Linked DNA regions of Homo sapiens: region 1 is linked to region 2. The links come from fine-mapping of genetic effects on gene expression. A gene starts in region 2. The other region holds a variant in brackets. All regions are shown on one strand. Distances are from middle to middle. Region 1 has its middle 30 kb from the start of CTLA4. Region 2 holds the start of CTLA4 (cytotoxic T-lymphocyte associated protein 4).

Evidence for each region. PIP is the estimated chance that this variant, and not a neighbour inherited with it, causes the effect. A credible set is the group of variants that fine-mapping cannot tell apart.
Region 1: its variant is the best candidate, but not a certain one, in a credible set for the expression of CTLA4 in whole blood (INTERVAL, PIP 0.84).

The regions. Positions count from the first base shown.
Region 1 is chr2:203,832,320-203,842,665 of GRCh38, forward strand. No RefSeq gene overlaps it. Among named protein-coding and RNA genes, the nearest start is that of CTLA4, 30 kb to the right of the region's middle. The variant C/T (reference allele first, on the strand shown) is at 5,618.
Region 2 is chr2:203,860,890-203,871,170 of GRCh38, forward strand. CTLA4 (cytotoxic T-lymphocyte associated protein 4) reads left to right here and starts at 6,882. Exons shown (of 4, transcript NM_005214.5): 1 at 6,882-7,162; 2 at 9,697-10,044. The coding sequence starts at 7,054.

The DNA.
Region 1 (10,346 bases), 29 kb before region 2:
GTTAGGATTGCAAGATAAAATATGGGAAGCCAAGTTAAATTGAATTTCAGATAAACAAGAATTTTTTTTAGTACAAATATGTTCCATGCAATATTTGGAAAATATTTGGAACATACTTATACTAGAAAAGTATTTGTAGTTTATCTGAATAAATTCATATTTAATTGAATTTCTTGTATTTTTATTTGCTAAAACCGGCAACTCTATTTAGGAGGTTACTACAGTAGTCCAAGTAAGGGGAAACAAAGAACTAAAAAGGGTGGTGGAAGAGGAAATTGATAGGAGAGTACGGATGTGAAAGAATTGAGAAGGTAAAATTGATAGGACTTGGCAACTGATAAGAGAAAATGATGTGGCTTTAGATACCATAATGTGGAAAGAGGAGCCAGGATCTAATAGGCTAATTTTCTAATAGAAAATTTATATACTTCAAGGGAAAACAATGGGTGAACTGAACATGGAGTAGTGGTTCTGTGAATTGAGAGCCTTGATTAGTGAAATGAACATTGAAAGACATTATTGCAAGTTTAAATTAAACTAAAAATTTAATAAAAGTTACCTTCTTTAAAAATAGTTAACATTTTTGTAGATGTATTGAGAAGTTTAAATATGTTATTAATAGCATTGAGGATATCAGTCTGCCTTTTCATAACCCAGATAAATGAAAGCTCATAACTTTTATTCTTCTAAAACATTTAAAGTTGTGTCCTAAAATCAGACAATAGCTGTTTCATTTTTGCTTAGAAAATAGTATATTAAAATGAATCTTTTATCAAGCTGGGCAGAATAACTTTTGCCTCATATCAACCAGTAGGATTAAAGGGTGTTTTATAAAATTCTGCATTAAAATTATTCGATGTTACCCCCATGCTATTTTAGCACAATAAAATAGCATGGGAGTATTTTACTGTATTTTATATGTACAGGGTACATATACTGTGTATAGTATTTTATTGTGCTAAAATAGCATGGGAGTATTTTACTGTATTTTATATGTACAGGGTACATATACTGTATATAGTATTTTATTGTGCTAAAATAGCATGGGAGTATTTTACTGTGCTAAAATACATTTAGCATGGGCTGTTATATCTTATGACTTTGATCTCTAGATATACCTATTTCTAAACATATATGGGTATACATTTCAAGATGGTAGAATAAATTAGAAATTGTAAAGATGTCTGTTGAGACCCTTTAAACTTTTATAAAGCCTATTCTAATTTATTCAATAAATATTTATTAGATATCTATTATGGACCCAGTTTTTTACCAATAGCTTGAAAGAAAGTCCCTTTCCTCATAATCTTAAAGAACAAATCAATTATGGAGTAATCAAGTTGGGATGGAAACTTCAGATAAAAAATGATATTTTCCCATTTTACCTGCCACCTTTATCCCCGTTTGTTTCAGAGCTGCAGTAGCGACCTGTATCTGCTAGGGTCCAGGCAGAAGACAGAAACCACATCAACTATTTAAACAGAGAGAATTTTACATAAAGAGTTGTTGGCTGGGAGTGGTGGCTCATGCCTGTAATCCCAGCACTTTGGGAGGCCGAGGCAGGCGGCTCACGAGGTTAGGAAATCGAGACCATCCTGGCCAACCTGGTGAAATCCCCTCTCTACTAAAAATACAAAAATTAGCTGGATGTGGTGGTGTGCACCTGTAATCTCAGCTACTTGGGAGGCTGAGACACGAGAATCGCTTGAACCCAGGAGGCAGAGGTTGCAGTGAGCCGAGATCGTGCCACTGCACTCCAGCCTGGCGACAGAGCAAGACTCCGTCAAAAAAAAAAAAAAAAAAAAAGCTGTTAACCAGGCATAATGCAGTTAACTAGGTAATTGAGAAACAAAAGGAGAATGCTAATGTATCTCAGAGGAAGCAGCTGCAGCTACTATTCCTAGGGTTGGAGGAACAAGAGGAAAAGGTTAGAATTACTAAAACTTAGAAATTTGCAGGAGTCTTATAACCTGGGACCCAGACCTCCGAGGAGGGTCTCCAGTTGGCTAGTGTTGATGTCTCTGGGGAGTAGGATAAGGGGCAGTGAAGCTGGTTCTGCAAGTCTTGAAAAAATTGCAAAGTGGATTCAGCTGCTGCTAATGGACACACCTGCTGCTGCTGCTGGGGTGAAGAAGTGAGCCTGGGGTGACATCCACACAAACATGGAGCAAGTCCCTGCTTCCTTCTTCAGCCTTGCAGTTCTCCCTCTAACACCTTCTACTGACAGAGTCTAACACAGATCCAGAATACTATGCTGCCATAAAAAGGAATGAGATCATGTCCTTTGCAGGGACATCGATGGAGCTGGAACCCGTTATCCTCAGCAAATAACACAGAAACAGAAAACTAAACACCGTATGTTCTCACTTATAACTGGGAGCTGAATAAGGAGAACACATGGACACAGGGGGCATGGGAACAATACACACTGGGGCCTGTTGTGTGGTGGAGGCAGGAGGGAGAGCATCAAGAAGAATAGCTAATGAATGTTGGTCTTAATACCTAGGTGATGGGTTAACCTGTGCAGCAAACCACCATGGCACACATTTACCAATGTAACAAACCTGTACCTCTTGCACTTGTACCCCAGAACTTAAAAGTTGAAGGAAAAAAAAAAAGCAGAAATGTAGTTTGCAGACTCCCAGGCTCAGCATCACAAATCATAGTAGTGTCTATGTGAGCTGAGGGACCATAACTTGCTAATTGGTACACCTCCTAAATACTTCTTCTGGATTACCTCTTGCCTTCTCAAGTAGGAGCTCTGCCCTGAACCAGAGTGATCTTCCCAAATCCCTTCAAAATTTCTCATGGCTCTCAGAATAAGGGCAGAGATCCTTAACATGACCCACGGGCCTGTGTGATTTGACCCCTGAACATTTCCATCCTCATCCTGGACCTCAGTCTCCCTCCGTAGCCTGGCTGGCCTCCAGTCCTTGAGGATGTCACGTTCTCTTCTCCTTCAGGACTTCCATACATACTACTCCCTGTGCCTGAAATGTTCTTCCCCTCCTCTTTGCCTAGTTTAGTTCCATTTGTTGTTGAGATTTTAGCTCAAGAACAACGACTTCTTCAGGATGGCCTCCTTCATGCCTTAGATGGGGCGATGCCTCTCTATTAAATGTTTCCATGGCTTTTGCGCACTCTTCATGGTTTGTAATTGGATTGTTGTATTTGATATTTGTTTCCCCACTATTATGAGATACATGAGTGTAGGAATAATGTCTGTTTTGTTCACCACTGTTTTCTCAGTGCCTACAAGGTGTGTGACATGTAGTAGGTACTCAACAAATATTTATCACGTGACCGAAGAGCCAAACCAAATTATTTTGTAAGAGGAAGCGTTTATTACCATAATTTAGGATGCTGCTGTTGGTTGTAAGTACTGTCATTTTATTATGAAGAAAAGCAGTTGGTAAGGAGCACTCTGAAAACATGTCAGAGCCAAGACAGTGAGAGCAGCTGTATGCATTTATTTATTTAAACCTTTCTCAAAGTGTTCGTTGCTCCGGCTTCAATACTAACACAGATAGGGGTATCGTAGCAGAGTCCTGATTGTGCGCCACTCAGCCCGGGTCAGTCCGCTTTTACATGAAGTGAAATAAAATCTGTACGTCCTATATTTTCAAGGCCTCAGCAGCAGATCTGCCCATGAGTGCAGAAAACAGTGCCCCATGAGAACCAGAGCAAGTGGGCAGGCACAGCACCATCCAAGTTCATTCTTAGAAAAGAAGTGTTTCTTCAGAGGAAGCGTAGTCTGCCCACCCTACAGACAACCTTTTACATTCTCAGAAGAGCAGTTCGCTTCCTGCTGTGACATTGTCTCAGGCATCTGTATTTATGATTAGGGTCTCTGCTCTACGAATAAAAGGCCTGCTCCAGTGATTTTCCGAGAACGACAGATTGGTCTGTACCAAAGGTTTGTTTGAGTCTCTGCCTCACAAGCCAGAAAAGTGCTTACAGTCTCGAAACGATGGTTCCAGTTTTTACCCTTCCCATCAATGCTTCAAAGATGTGAAGACCAAGTTACGGGCAGGGCTTATGCTTAAAGTACCATGAGTAACATCCCCCCAGCAGTGTCTGCAAGAAGAAAGTTTCTTACACATGTGTTTATCCATTCAGTCATCCACCCATTTAGCTCTCATTTACGAGTGTTTACTATGTATGAAGTGTTGTTCCCGGCACTGGAGCTATTGAGTTGGCAGAGAAAGACAGATCACAGTTAACAAGATAATTTCAGGCAATGATAAGCGGCATGATGAAAATAGGGAGTGACTTGTGGCGCTACCGTTCGGATGCGTGATCATTGATGTGATTGATAAGATGACATTTAAGCAGAAATCTGAATGGCCAGAAGGGACCCGTCTTACTAAGATACGGGGAAAGAACATTTCAGACAGAGGGGACAAATTGTGCCAAAGCTCTGGAGTAGGGATGAATTTGGACAAGTGTGGCTGGGGTATAGGAAGCAAGGGATCTGGGAAGAGGAACCCAGTTCTGAGACAATGCATAGAAGAGTGACCTACCTCTTTCATGCTCTGTACCATGTTGCCTTTTCTGTATGTAGGGGCGAATTGTATTTTGTTATGTCCATGCACAATTTCTGCTTAGGTTCAGTTGGAGCATTCAGTTGCTCTACTACGATACACCAACAGTTAAACTTCAAATATAGATTGGGAAAATGATACAGTGATGAGCTTATCCTTGGATATTTTATAAAGCAACTGCTACATTATATTCTTAGGGATGTTGGAAAATCAAATAAAATGTGGGGTCATATGTTTTGTTAGATAACACCCTCCCTAACTTAGACTGAGTTGCCTCACGTGTAAATGTTGTAAAAACCTAAATAGCAATGAGATATCACTACATACCAATTATGGTGGCTAAGATAAAATATACTGATATCAAGTGCTGGTGAAGAGTCAAAACAACCAGAGCTCTTAGACATTGCTGGTGGGAAAGCAAAAATGGTATAGCCACTTTGATGGTTTCTTATGAAGCTAGACATACACTTACCATAAGACCCAGCAATCCCACTTCTGCACATTTACCCTAGAGAAATGAAAACTTATGTTCACACAAAACTTGTACGTAAATATTTGTAAAAGCTCTATTCATAATCACCAAAACCAGAAGCAACTTAAATGCCCTTCAACAGCTGAATGGGTAAACTATGAGACATCCATCCAATGGAATACTACTCATCAGCAAAAAGGAAGAAACTACTGATGCGCATAACTTGGATGAATCTCAGAAGCATTATGCTGAGTGAAAGAAGCCCATATGAAAAGGCCGCATAGCATATGATACCATTTATTTGGCATTCTCCAAAAGACAAAACTATAGTGATGGGGAAAGACATGGGGACAGTGGCTAGGGCTGGGAGCAAGTGTGACTAAAAAAGAATAGTATGAGAGAGGTTTCGGGAATGATGGAATTGTTCAGTATTCTGATAGTGATTGTTATACTAATCCATACATGTGTTAAATTTCATGGAACTGTAAACCCATTTTTAAAAGTCAATTTTGCTGTGTGTTAATTTAAAAATTAAAGCTAAAACCTAACAACAATCAAGAAATATATTGGTGTGTCTGAAGATAAAAAGGAACTGTTTAAA[C/T]TGATAGTAAAGAAAAGCCTTAAATTTTTGGTTGTGATTTCTGCATGTAGTAAGTTGAATTTTTCCAAACTGAGGTTATCGCATTGAATATGAATTCAGAAAGTACTAATTACTCTGTCACCAAGAAATTCTAATCCATTAGTAGAATATAATCAGATTCACATAAATTAAAAAATAAAATATAGTCAAACTTCTTTGAGCAGTCCAATTGACTGACTGCCACATGCTATGAAATGAAGATAGTGCTGCAAGGAATGAAAAACAAGATATTGTCTTGGGCTCCTAAGGAGCATACAATCTCATAGGGAGGATAAGAGAAGGAGAAAAACAATAATAATACCAAACAATTGAGAAAAGTGATTACACAAACATGCTAAGAGAAGCTCACAGTATCTCTGCATGTGGAAAGGAAGGAGAGAAGTCATATCAGATTGAGGATCACAAGTCCAACTGCACTCTTGACTTACTGATCTGATCTTTTGCAGTCTGCTTTTGAGAGAAAGAGATAAACGAGGAGAAAACAAGTTAATTTCAGAAATTTTATTAAAAAGTAAAACAGGATTATTCATACATTGTATTGGAGTCCTTATGGAGGGAGTCCTTTTCCAGGGAAGATCGTTTTTCATGGAATACCTGATAGGCTTAAGCACACTTTGGGAAACGTTGTGCAGGGCTCAGAGAACTCTCAAAAGTGGTTTTCTGAAGGTTTGAATCCTGGTCTAGTGTCAGGAGATGGGGAGGAAGTTTGGGCTAATGCTGAGTATTGGTCCTTGTTAGAGTGAGGCTTCAGGAGAGGGAAAGGGCCGGTGGATTGCCAGCCCATAGACAGGAGAGAGGGTCCCAGAAAAGCCCATGCTCTTTGCCAACTTCCACTTCTGTTTTGGTACATGGGCTGTAGGTTACTAATCCTCTGCTAGATTTCTACAACTCGTTTCATTGTTGGATAGCTCCAGTTATTAATACAAAGAGCATCTTTCTAAATTGCACTCTGCCTCCCCTGTGGCTTCCACCCTGTGGGTCTCATTACAACCCCAGGGTCCTCACAGATGTCTGTTTCTTCCTATGTGACCATGAGTGAATAACCTAATTTCTTGAGCCTACTTCTTCTTCCTCTGTAAAACCAGGGCAATAATAACTACTCCTTAAGAATGTTGTGAGTATTGGCTGGGCACGGTGGCTCATGCCTGTAATCCCAGCACTTTGGGAGGTTGAGGTGGGTGGATCACCTGAGGTCAGGAGTTCGAGACCAGCTTGGCCAATATGGTGAAACCACATCTCCGCTAAAAATACAAAATTAGCCAGGTGTGGTTGCAGGCGCCTGTAGTCCTAGCTACTCAGGAGGCTGAGGTGGGAGAATCACTTGAACCCAGGAGGCAGAGATTGCAGTAAGCCAAGAGATTGCGCCATTGCACTCTAGCCTGGGTGACAAGAGCGAAACTCTGTCTCAAAAAAAAAAATGTTGTATTAATGAGATAATGGACATTAGTCATCTGGCATAGTGGCTGATACAGTAGACATTCAATACATTTGTATTTCCTCTCCCTCTCTAAATAACAGCCTTTCAAATAATAGTTATTAGGTATCCCTGTTTTATCGCTCTAAGCAAAGCTTTCCCTGTGCATGCATGCATTCATTCCATTATTCATTCATCCATCTATTGATTCTACAGTTACTTATTGAGCCTCTCCTGTGTGAAAGGCCCTGTGCTGGGCACTGAGGATACCGTGGGGATCAGAGCAGACAGTGCTCCTAATTCTAATCTCGTGGAGTCTGAAATCAAGTAAATAGGTGATAATAGTTCAGTGCTGTAAGTACCCTGGGAAAAGAGGGAAAGAGAGAACTCTTCCAGGTTGGAGGGCATATTAGTTTCTTGAGGCTGTTGTAACCAATTACTACAAACTTGGTGGCTTAAAGCAACAAAAGTTTATTCTCTCAAGGTCCTGGAGGCTAGAAATCTGGCAGGACCACACTCCATTTGGGGACTCTAGGGGAGAATCAGTGCCTTGTTTCTTCCAGCTTCTGGTGGCTCCCCAGCATTTCTGGGTTTGTGGCTGCATCATTCCAGTCTCTGCCTCTGACTTCACATCACCTTCTGCCTTGTATGTTTCTATATGATCTTCAATTTCCTCTTTTTTATAAGGACATTTATGATGGCATCTACGATCCACCCAAATAATCCAGGGTAATCTTCTCATCTCAAGATCCTTAACTCAGTTACAACTGCAAAGACACTTTCTCCAAGTAAGGTAACATTTTCAAGTTCCAGGGATTAGGACATATCTCTGGGTAGCCATTATTCAACCTACTACCACTACAAGGGATAAGGATGAAAGAAGGCTTCCTGGGGGAACAGTGTATAAAATAGGACCTAAAAAATTAGGCAGAATTTTGTCAGGAGGAGAAGCAGCAAGAGTGATAGAGAATATTCCAAGCAGAGAAATCAGTGTGTGGCAAAGGCCCTGAGTTGAGGGAGTGTGGTGAATCAGAGAATCTGCACGGAGTGTGGTTATGGCTGGAGCACATAGTAGGTGTGTGTGTTGATGCATGAGGGGAGGGCTGTGGGAGGAGAGACAGGAGGTGAGTCTGGAGAGAGAAAAGCACTGGCTAGATCTTGAGGGACTTTGATAGCTATGCTAAAGTGTTTGGATTCTATGCCAGATGTCATGGAGAGTCATGGAAGGGTTTTAAGAAGACATCTTATGTGCTCAGATTTGCACCAGCCTCTGGAGAAGAGGTGAGGGGACTCATAGGAGGCAAAGACATCAATCAGAGGGCTGCTGCGGCCATTCTGGGGAGAGATGATGGCAGCCAGAGCTGGCTGATTTCTGCTTCTGCTAGAACATGATTCCAGCTCCATTGCGTTCCTTGTTACAGGGATCAGACCTCATTTCCCACTGCTATTACGGTTCCTACCCATGCTTGTCAATTAATGCGGTGATTGATTGGTCACAGGATTTATTATTTGGCTTCCAATAAGCCTTGGGTTTCCAAGTCTGACTGTGGAAAAGGAGCTTACTCAACTGAAACACTTTGTAAGTGACACTTCTCCATCCCCCTTCCTGTGGCAGCCCTTCCCAGCACAAAGCCACAGACCAGGGTGAGAGGCAGTGGTGGAGGGGCAGGAAGGTGGGAGGACAAATCAGTGAGACAAATGATAAAGGAGGTTCCCAGTATGCTTTCTGATCTTTCTGGACTTTTTTAATGGGCTAATTGAAGGAAAGGTTTAATTAACCGAACACACACATATCCAAAGCCTCTGTAAAATTGGAATTAGGTAGAATTTTATCAGCGGACAAAATTTTCTCACAACCTGGGAGGTGTCCCTCTGTCACTGATTTGTCTCAAATGGTTGCTTGTTTTCAGAAGCAGCAGATGTGATAAGACCTGCATGTTTCTGACTGACTGTATATGTTGGCCTGTTCTATGGTTAAGAATCCGTAAGCATCAAGTCCTTTATTTTGCATCTCTGGGGTCTGGAAGCAGATTTTTATATATTTCTCTCAAAATCGGGTCAGGGCTTCCAGAGGGTGGAGGGTTGCAAATAATGAAAAGGAGTGGAAATATGCCTATAGTATTCTGTAGCTTGACCAAATGGTGATTCTCACAGTGTGGTCTTCCCACCCTCTTGTGGATGAATCACTTAGGATCTTCTAAAAAATACAGTTTCCCATGATCCCCTTTAGTCAAATGAATTCAGATTTCCAGGGATGGAGCTCAGGAGTCTGAATTTTTAACAAGTTCTTCAGGAAACCAAAACGCTCATGAAAGCGTGAGATTAACTATTAGAGCTCACGGAAAAGGAGGGACAAATAAATGAAATATAAAAAGGAGGAAATGCCTCCAACCAGTGGGCTCAGACAGAAAAGGAATCAGTCATGTAAATTATGGTACCTCCATGTCATAAAACACAGCAATCAAATACGGTAGATGGAAATATACTGACATGGAGATAATTCGACATGGAACTATGTCTGTCATATACTGTCAAGTGCAAAATAGTGTGTATGGGATAACTCCATTTTATATGTATATATGCATAGAAAAAACATCTTAAATTCATTCATCCAAAGAATATCCACTGAGTTATCAGCTGTGAACAAGACAGCTAGGGTCCTTTGCTCATGGTTTAGTATGCATACATATACCATTGCTAACACATTATTTATGGGTATAGGAATTATCTTGTTTATATGAGTTTCTTAAAAATTTTCTGTACTTAACATGCATAGATTTTGTAATAAAAATAACAAAAAATGGATATAAATACTCTCCTCATGGATCCATTTGGTTTTATGAGTCACATTCCTTGCGGGTATATAACTTTGTAACAGAGTGCTTTTCTGCCCTCATCTTCTTTTACACTGGTTTCTTTTGATCATGATCTAATCTTTCTTTTCTACATCCAAAGCATCAGTCTTATTCCACTATCTTTGTGTGAACGAAAATCAAAATCATTTAATTCATTACCCATATACTACGTATGGGCATATAAATACCTGCTTTCATAAGTTTTGTTCACAACCATCTTTCTTGTTGTCTTCTCTTGTAAACATTACGGGTAATGTCTTCCATTATGGTACTTTCTTCTAGTTCAGACTACATGGTGCACAGGTGAGTAATAATTCCTGGTAAAGAAAGTAGGAGTCAATGACAACACTTATCAGTTTGTTTTAGGTAGGTCTAGAGTCTGTGAGTACCCCCTGTGATTTTATGTTCGATTCTGATTAGT
Region 2 (10,281 bases):
TCTCTATATAATTAAATCTGTGACAGGCAAAGATTACCCTTCAACTGAAGCAGGCTCTGCATTTCATTGTCATCCAAATCAGCAAATACAACTTTGCTTCCCTGACAACCCTGTTCACAATGTAAACTGAAAAGCCAGGAGGAACCTACTCTGTTTCCCCACTAAAGGACTGACAAAGTCCACAGCTCAGAAGCATCCATTTTTTACCTGATTTTATGATTGGCTTATAGTTTCCTAGGGACTGAAAATTAATCTACCACATTTATTTAACTGGGTTCTTGCCCAGCCCATATTTTCACCCTTTAATGGTAATGAAGCTAAAATTTCTTTCCAGTCACTTTGCATATCATTTCCTTTCTCTTTAATTCTCTTTCGAAGTGAGATGATTGATAGATTCTTCTTCAGCAGTCACTTACTTTGGTAGATGATTTTCTTTTTCCTTTGAAGTCGATTTTGAAAGGAGCTCTGTGTGATGAGCTAATTAGCACAAACACACAGAGTATATAACCTTAATTAGGCATGATTATAGGCTCAACGTAATGGGATGTCCTGAAACTGCACACTATGCAAATATTAGACTTTTCATTCTTCCCATTACATCGGAAACCATCAAGCAAAGGATGTTTTGCAGTAGGTACCACAGTCAATGCCAGGTGCAACTCTTTCAATAAAAGGTTGATTTTTTTAAAATTGTTTTGGTATACTAGTTGGGTAAAGGATAATTGGAGGAGGTTTAGGGAAAAAGTTCAAAAATCTGAAAAGCTGAATTCAGTTCAGAATGAGCTATATAAGCTGAGGAATTTTACAATTAAGTAAACAACCCAGTTACTCTTTAAACTCTACCTCTTTTGGAATTCTGAAGATACTTCACCATAGGCACCACTATGAATTATGCAAATCTTGAGAGATCTTTCAAACCCAGTAACCACTAAGAGTACTACAAAACCAATCTGGGGTTTACTCAAGCTATTAGGATATAAGAAGATAGTGAGTATAAATGAAATCACAGTGAATCCCCAAGTCCTAATTTTAGCCGATTATTTTCATTTCCTTTACCACCAACCCCCCACCTTTTTTTCTTTTATAATTGGAGTGGTAAAAATAATTAGCAAATTGACTTTCCCCTTCCTAACCTGAAATGAAAATATCCAAGGATGTGGTACCCTTAGACATTTGAATATTCAGCCACTGAATAATTGAGAGCTTATAATACATAATTCTTAGATTATGTGTAGAGTTGTGAGTTTTTAGACTCAATCAGGTAAAAAATAATAAGCCGTTTGGTTCCAGACACTCATGGAAATACTGACAGGGCAGAAATTCAATATGTGAGTATTAGAATAATTAGTATCTGATTTTAATCTAAAATACCATCTATTCAGTAGAAATGATAATGAAAGAGGGTTTATATAACAGCTGAAATTTAAAATCCATAGCGTTCTCTGTGTTTAATATGTAAACTAATTTTTCCTGAGAACATAGTATATGATAGGCACAGTGTTCAATAACTTATTGGTATAGGCTCATTGAATCATCGCAATAATGATACAAGATAATTCCTGTAAATTACCCATATTTTACAGATGAGGAAGCTGAGGATCAGAGAAGTTAAAAAATGTCATCCAAGATCACATATCCAGAAGCTGCAGAGCCAGGACTTGAACTCATGTCTGTCTGACTCCAGCCATGCTTTTAATCACTCTGCTGGGCTCATTAGTACCTATCAGGCCTATGATTGTGTCCTTAGTGATTAGCACTTTCCCCAGAGCTGGAAATGAGATGCGAGAGAAATAAAAATGCTTGAGATCTAAACTGAAATGCAGAAATTCTCTATTATCTACTAGGTACAAAGGAGGCCTTGACTAGGTGCTTTGTGTGTGTTGAGGTTGTAAGTGCTGTGGAAATAGAATTTGGAGGAAGACAGACAGAATTACACATGATTGACTATAATAAATACAAACCTATATGATACAACATGTTATTGCTGTACATAAGATAACGGGAAAAATCAGTACTGAATGAGAATGAGAAGACGAAGATTTCAATCTAGTTTTTGCCACATACCAAATGTAGCACTAGATCAATGAGGGTCTCAACAGGCAACAGGGGGTTCAAATAAAAGATTCAATGAAAGAACTACTTTGAGAAATATTAAGAAGGGTTAGGGGTGGAGGTTCGTAATGCACCCAGACACTAGCAACAGTGGAAGCTGATAGCACCCCTAGGATGGAAAGATTCTTACTCTTTTTTTAAGATTCTTTAAGATTCTTTAAGAATCTAGGGTAAGATTCTTACTCTTACCCTAGGGGAGGTAAGAGTAAGAATGGGCATCATAGAACAAGGGCCACCAAACAAGAGCTGTACTTGTGGAGAGGTACTGTTACTACCAGACACATGGCCCTGAACCTGGGAGAGGGCAGGGAAGAAAGACCTGGACTTCCACCTTGTGCTTTCTGATGTGCTGGGAACTTCCAATGCTAAGCCCTCAGAAGCCACCCTGACAGGGAACTAATGAGACATTTTCTACAGGGGTCTGTCCCAGGTGGAGCTTGGATCTGAGGAAAGGGGATGGAGAATCACCTTCGGCAAGTCACTTTTCCTCTCTAAATTTCAGTTTGCTCATCCCTCGTTTATTGCCTACCATATTATCAATAATATAAATAGTTGGCCTTATAATTTTTACTTCGAATTTTTTTGAAAAACCTCAAATTTACAAAGAATTTGTAAGAATAGTACCATGAATACACACATATTCTTCACCTAGATTCACCAATTGTTAAAATTCCATCACTGCTGTTTAATTCTTTTTATCTTTCTCTGCTAACACAGACACATATTTTTGCTGAACCTTCTGAGAGTACTTGCTGACATTCTGACACTTAAACCTCGAATACCTAAGTATTATCTATAAACAAGGATGGTTCTCTACATAACCCCAGTACGATGATCACATTCAGGAAATTAAACATTAAGGCAATGCTATTATGAAATATAGGCTATACTCAAATTTCCCCCAGTTTCTCAGTAATCTGCTTTGTATTATTTTTTTCAATCAATAATAACACATTAAATTCTGTCATCATGTCTCTATTTTCTCCTTTAATCTAGAATGGTTTTCCAGGCTTTTCCCTTTTTAATCTTTTGTGATGTTAACATTTTTGAAGAATCTAGGCCAGTTATTTTGCAGAATATGGATTTGTCTGATTATTTCTTCATGCTTAGATTCAGTTAAAACAATTTTGGCAATAACTACACAAAGTTGTTGTGTCCTTCTCAGTGTATTGTATCTGGAGGTACCCTATGTCAGAACACTCCATCACAGTAATCTTCAGTTGGGATCACTTGGTTAAAGCAGTATCTGCTAGATTTATCAATTATCTTTTCCCTATTGTAATTATCAAGTAATCTGTGGGGTGGTATATGTGAATATATCTTTTCTCACCAAGATTCTTTTACCCAGCATTTTTTTTACAACCATTTGAATTTTCTTGCTATGACAGAATTAGTTTCATAAGAGCATAATTAAGGAATCTGGTAAGACGTCTTTGAAAGTTCTAATTACAACCCTCATCTCTTCTTATGTTAAACTGTCTTCATTCATTTACCTACCTATTTAACAAATGTTTAAAGAATGCTCGTTTTGTGGCTTGGCCTGTGACATTTTCATCAGTGGCTTCATAGTTGCCTAAACTAATGTCTCTTCCTGTGCTCCAGAATCCTATTGGCAACTATTTTCCATGGATGCCATAAACTCAACATACTCAGATGAAAGCTGTCATTTCACTTTCTCACCTGCTCTTCCTGTTATTTATTCCAGTAAATTGCACCTCTGTCTTCTCATTGACCCTATAATAAGAAAGGCCTATTTATTGAGTGGCTATCTGTTACAATAGGCCTTTTATACATGTTACATGCATTATCTCATTTAATCTTTTCAATAATCTTGAGAATTAGATGCCATTATCTGGAGGACATTGGGCTTTGAGCCCCAGGTCAACAGTAAGCAAGTCCCCATGCTAGGATACAAATCCAGTTATCTTGGGCTTCAAAATCTTTGCTTTAGCATAGTGATAAAGGTATCACTGGCTTCAAATCCTGGCTCTGCCACTTCCTACGGGTGATTGGGTAAGTCACCTTAACTTTCAATGCCTTGATTTCCTTCTTTATAAAATGGGAAAAATGGTAACTCTTGTCTTGTAGGGTTGTTATGGACTTGAAAGAAACAAAACTTGCTGGGCGCGGTGGCTCACGCCTGTAATCCCAGCGCTTTGGGAGGCCGAGGCGGGTAGATCACCTGAGGTCAGGAATTTGAGACTAGCCTGGTCAACATGGCGAAACCCCATCTCTACTAAAATAATACAAAAAATTAGCTGGGCGTGGTGGTGGGTGCCTGCAATCCCAGCTACTTGGGAGGCTGAGGCAGGAGAATCACTTGAACCCAGGAGGCAGAGGTTGCAGTGAGCCGAGATCGCGCCACTGCACTCCAACCTGGGAAACAAGAGTGAAACTCTGTCTCAAAAAAATAAAAAAGAAAAGAAAGAAAACTTGACATTTGAATAATTTCTGCAGCACCACAGTACTTCTCAAACCATAATTCTGGTGTCATTCATTCTAAACTTCTCCTTCCACTCACTGATTGTGGACTAGTCCCATAGGGACCTCGTCTTCACAGCTGTCATTACCTTAGTTTAGACCAGGGGTTGGCAAACCATGGCCCACAGGCCAAATCCAGACTTCACCTATTTTCGTAAATGAAGTTTTATTGGAATGCACACACACCCATTTGTTTACATATAATATATGGCTTCTTTCATTCTAAAATGACAGAGTTGAGTAGTGGCAACAGAGACCCCACCGTTTGCAAATCATAACATATTTACTATTTTGCCCCCTTCAGAAAGCTTTCCAAATCCTGGTGCCTGGCGTATTCCAATAGTCTTCTTCCCAGTCTTCCTGGTTACATTTCTCCCTGAACCCATCCTCCCCATCCCTAAAATTTCCCCCAAATGTGAACTCAGTCATACCAGTTTGCTCCTTATGTTTCATTGGCCCTTGCTGCTAAGAGCATCCGCTTGCACCTTCTGCTCATCCCCAGACAAGCTTTGTCCTGTGACCATAATGAACTCTTCATGCCGTTTCCAACTTTAGCCCATGTTATTCTTCTTGTCTGAATATCCACCCTTTTCTCTGTTCTCAATAATAAGTTCAGGCTTTTCGTCTTCTGAGAAGCCCTTTCTGACTTCCACAGGCTGAACCACTGGCTTCTGCTCCTCTACATAATACTTCAATTCCAGCATTGATCTCACTCTATCATGATCATGGGTTTAGCTGTCTGTCCCTGCCACTGCTGTGTGTTCCTCTTGAGGGCAGGAACATTTGTTTTTCACTTTTTAAAAAACCTCTGTTGCCCAGTCTGGCATTAGGAAGTGCCCATTAGGTTGTTATTGCTTGTTGGCGCTTGAGCTGGGGCTTGAAGGTTTCTATAATGTGTAGCAGTGTATAGAAAACAGGCAGGTCAGAAAAGGCTTCTGTGCATCACACCAACATGGCACATGTATACATATGTAACAAATCTGCATGTTGTGCACATGTACCCTAAAACTTAAAGTATAATAATAATAAAATTTTAAAAAAAAAAAGAAGAGGCTTCCTGGAGGAGATGACAGCTGAGCTAAGTCCTGGAGGATGAGAAGGAGTATAAAATAAGATAATAGGAGAAAAAAGGCAGTAGGAACAGCATGGGTAAAGGTGATGAGGCCTGAAAGAGGCACGTGGAAGGAAAGACAAATGCAGGAAGGGGGAATGGGAGGGAATGCTGGGGTACAGGCCAAAGAGGGAGGCATTTGGTGAGTATTCTGCAGAGTCTCCTCTGCTGTGCTGAGGTGTGGACAATGGGAAACCATGGACGGACTGGAGTAGGCAAATGTCATATTCCCTGTTACAACTGTCTGTTTGCATGTCAGCCTTCTAGAAGCCCCTTAAGGTATCAACTATGTTTTTGTTTTGTCATCATTCAATCCTAAGTGCACAGAATTCCGGGCATATTACAGGTTCCCCATGAATGTTTCTTTCTTTATTAAAATGTATGAAAACTCTCCAGATTTAAGGAAGGTCCTCAATGTTTCAAATTCTTTTTGTTAGATCATTGGTCCTGTCTACAGCTGTCACAAATTTAAGGACTCTGGTTATATTTAATCTTCACTTTTGAATTTTCTGCTTGAAAAATTTGTATTAGAAAAAAAAGTCTATCCTTTTATGGACGGCTCTAATCTCTTGAATCATTTGGGTTGGCTTTTCTTTGGACCTTCTTCAACTCTGTTTTGTCTCTGTTGAGTTAAGGCTTTTAAGAACACCTGAATTCTTTCCTTCTGCAAAACCAGAGGCAGCTTCTTTTCCGCCTATTTTCAGTTTATTTCTTGTGATTTTAGTTTTTTTCTCTTAACCAAATGCTAAATGGATTTAGGAGAAATAAACTTATTTGTAAAGCTGTCAAGGGACCATTAGAAGGATGGTGCTTCACAGATAGAATACAGTTTTTATTAATGATGCCTAGACAAATCCTGCCATTAGCCCAAGGGCTCAGAAAGTTAGCAGCCTAGTAGTTTTGGAGTTGTCAATGAAATGAATTGGACTGGATGGTTAAGGATGCCCAGAAGATTGAATAAAATTGGGATTTAGGAGGACCCTTGTACTCCAGGAAATTCTCCAAGTCTCCACTTAGTTATCCAGATCCTCAAAGTGAACATGAAGCTTCAGTTTCAAATTGAATACATTTTCCATCCATGGATTGGCTTGTTTTGTTCAGTTGAGTGCTTGAGGTTGTCTTTTCGACGTAACAGCTAAACCCACGGCTTCCTTTCTCGTAAAACCAAAACAAAAAGGCTTTCTATTCAAGTGCCTTCTGTGTGTGCACATGTGTAATACATATCTGGGATCAAAGCTATCTATATAAAGTCCTTGATTCTGTGTGGGTTCAAACACATTTCAAAGCTTCAGGATCCTGAAAGGTTTTGCTCTACTTCCTGAAGACCTGAACACCGCTCCCATAAAGCCATGGCTTGCCTTGGATTTCAGCGGCACAAGGCTCAGCTGAACCTGGCTACCAGGACCTGGCCCTGCACTCTCCTGTTTTTTCTTCTCTTCATCCCTGTCTTCTGCAAAGGTGAGTGAGACTTTTGGAGCATGAAGATGGAGGAGGTGTTTCTCCTACCTGGGTTTCATTTGTTTCAGCAGTCAAAGGCAGTGATTTATAGCAAAGCCAGAAGTTAAAGGTAAAACTCCAATCTGGCTTGGCTGGCTCTGTATTCCAGGGCCAGCAGGGAGCAGTTGGGCGGCAGCAAATAAGGCAAAGAGATAGCTCAGAACAGAGCGCCAGGTATTTAGTAGGGGCTTCATGAATGCATGTGAGTTGGTTTAGTAGAGAGACACAGGCAATTTCAGACCCTTCTATGAGACTGGAAGTGATTTAAGAGGGAAAGGATAGCCATAGTCCTGAATACATTTGAGCTGGGTTTCAGGATGAGCTCACAAGTTCCTTTAAAAAAAATTGACTTAAGCAAATCCTGGGAAGAGTTTTTTTGCTATACAATTCAAGGTTTTAAGGTCCTCGGATTCATATACTTTATAAATGAATTAGCCAGCTTGTTTAAAATGTAGGGAAATTGTGGGAAGAATGCCTTCTTTACTTAATTCAAGGTTTTAAGGTTCTCTTAATCAATTCTACTAGCTAATTAGCCAATTATTTAAAAATAAAAGTTTGAAATTGCCAAAAAAAAAAGACAAGGAAAAGGAAAGAAAGAAAGCCACCAGTCTGTTTGGCATACAATACTTAATTGTTGCCTGACCTACGTGTGGGTTTCAGATGCAGATCCTCAGTTTTCAGCTCTTCAGAGACTGACACCAGGTTTGTTACACGGCTTAAAATGATGAGTATATCCATTGAATCTCAACCTTATCTCTCTCTAGACCTTCTTGGTTAAGAAACCATGTAGTTTGTATGAAGTAGGTACTCAAAAGATATTTGATGATTTAATTTTTACTGGAGAAGAAATATTCATATATGTTTTCTTATTTTTACATGTTTTAAATATGTAAAGATTAAATAAACACTCTTAGAAGTATTTAAATTTCCTAAAGTAAATTTATCTCAACCAGTAACAGGACCCTCCCAATACTGGAAAGTTGAGTGTGACCGCATTTAGTGGTGATGAGTGTGAGCTTGCTTGGGGAGAGGGCAGGACATTTAGGATTTCTTAAGCTTAGAGTCAATACAATAAAGATTATTGAGTGCTCACTTGGGTGGGCTATAATCACTGCTCACAGGAGTTCATGAACCACAAGTAAAAGAGTGAGGAGATATGATTAGCTCACAAATAACTTTAATACAGAGCAGAAAGTAATGAACTACTGCAATGGAGTTATCACAGTGCTAAGGATGCTCAGAGGGCATCTCTGATAGGCAGAGGTGAGGGTTAGGGAAGGAAGCTGTAGTCTAGCTAGCTAGAGCTGCTGGAATAGACATGACAATGGCTGCTGCCAAACTGTTTTCTCTTCTGAGGACAGATGTCCCGTGCAAGTGGCTTGGTGGAAGGGACTAGTGTCTCTAATATAGGGTGATTTATAAGCAGGAAAGTGTGTCCTAGAAATTCAGACCAGAGTGATAGATTGGAATTGGATCATGGGGGACTCATTGAATGTTATTTATTGTATTTGTTTTTGCGATCAGTGTTAGTAAAGTGTCAAAGGGATTGAGCAGATGAGTGACATCATGCAACACAAGTTTTGAGTTTCACTTGTCAGACTGACTGGAGAGGGGCCTGGTTAGTTACAGGAAGGTAATTTGGCATGCAGCCACTATTTTTGAGTTGATGCAAGCCTCTCTGTATGGAGAGCTGGTCTCCTTTATCCTGTGGGAAAAGAGAACAAAGGAGCATGGGAGTGTTCAAGGGAAGGAGAAATAAAGGGCAGAGAGGCAGCGGTGGTGTCAGGGGAAGCCCACAGGAGTTAACAGCAGGGTTGCCTCAACCTAGAGAGGAAGCGACCTGGTGCCCTCGGCTCTGTGGCTTCCTTCATCTAACAACATCTTCCACTCTACAACAATGCCAGGGAAGGCGGAGGCTGGTACAGTGCATCAAGACACAGCTACTCCTGGGTGACAGAGGTTCAGGGCCAGCTCACTAAGTAGGCAGAAGTTTTTGACATATACTTTGAGAGATAAAGCAAGATTCTGTACCTCAACCTTCAGAATTTCCCCTACCACTCATTATAGTTCCGGAGCTATATAGCTCCTATCATTCTATCATAACCTTAGAATACCAGAGAACATATCATCTCATCTAATTATCTCTTACTATATGTGAAAAAAATGAAGGACATGGGGGAAGTGTGACTTGCCCCAAATCACATATTTCATGGTAGAGCCAGGTCTTCTGTTTGTCATATCAGTGTTCTTCCTGCCACAACCATCTTGAAGAATCTATTTCTCAGTAAGAAAATATCTTTATGGAGAGTAGCTGGAAAACAGTTGAGAGATGGAGGGGAGGCTGGGGGTGTGGAGAGGGGAAGGGGTAAGTGATAGATTCGTTGAAGGGGGGAGAAAAGGCCGTGGGGATGAAGCTAGAAGGCAGAAGGGCTTGCCTGGGCTTGGCCATGAAGGAGCATGAGTTCACTGAGTTCCCTTTGGCTTTTCCATGCTAGCAATGCACGTGGCCCAGCCTGCTGTGGTACTGGCCAGCAGCCGAGGCATCGCCAGCTTTGTGTGTGAGTATGCATCTCCAGGCAAAGCCACTGAGGTCCGGGTGACAGTGCTTCGGCAGGCTGACAGCCAGGTGACTGAAGTCTGTGCGGCAACCTACATGATGGGGAATGAGTTGACCTTCCTAGATGATTCCATCTGCACGGGCACCTCCAGTGGAAATCAAGTGAACCTCACTATCCAAGGACTGAGGGCCATGGACACGGGACTCTACATCTGCAAGGTGGAGCTCATGTACCCACCGCCATACTACCTGGGCATAGGCAACGGAACCCAGATTTATGTAATTGGTGAGCAAAGCCATTTCACTGAGTTGACACCTGTTGCATTGCAGTCTTCTATGCACAAAAACAGTTTTGTTCCTTAATTTCAGGAGGTTTACTTTTAGGACTGTGGACATTCTCTTTAAGAGTTCTGTACCACATGGTAGCCTTGCTTATTGTGGGTGGCAACCTTAATAGCATTCTGACTGTAAAATAAAATGATTTGGGGAAGTTGGGGCTCTCGCTCTGGAGTGCTAACCATCA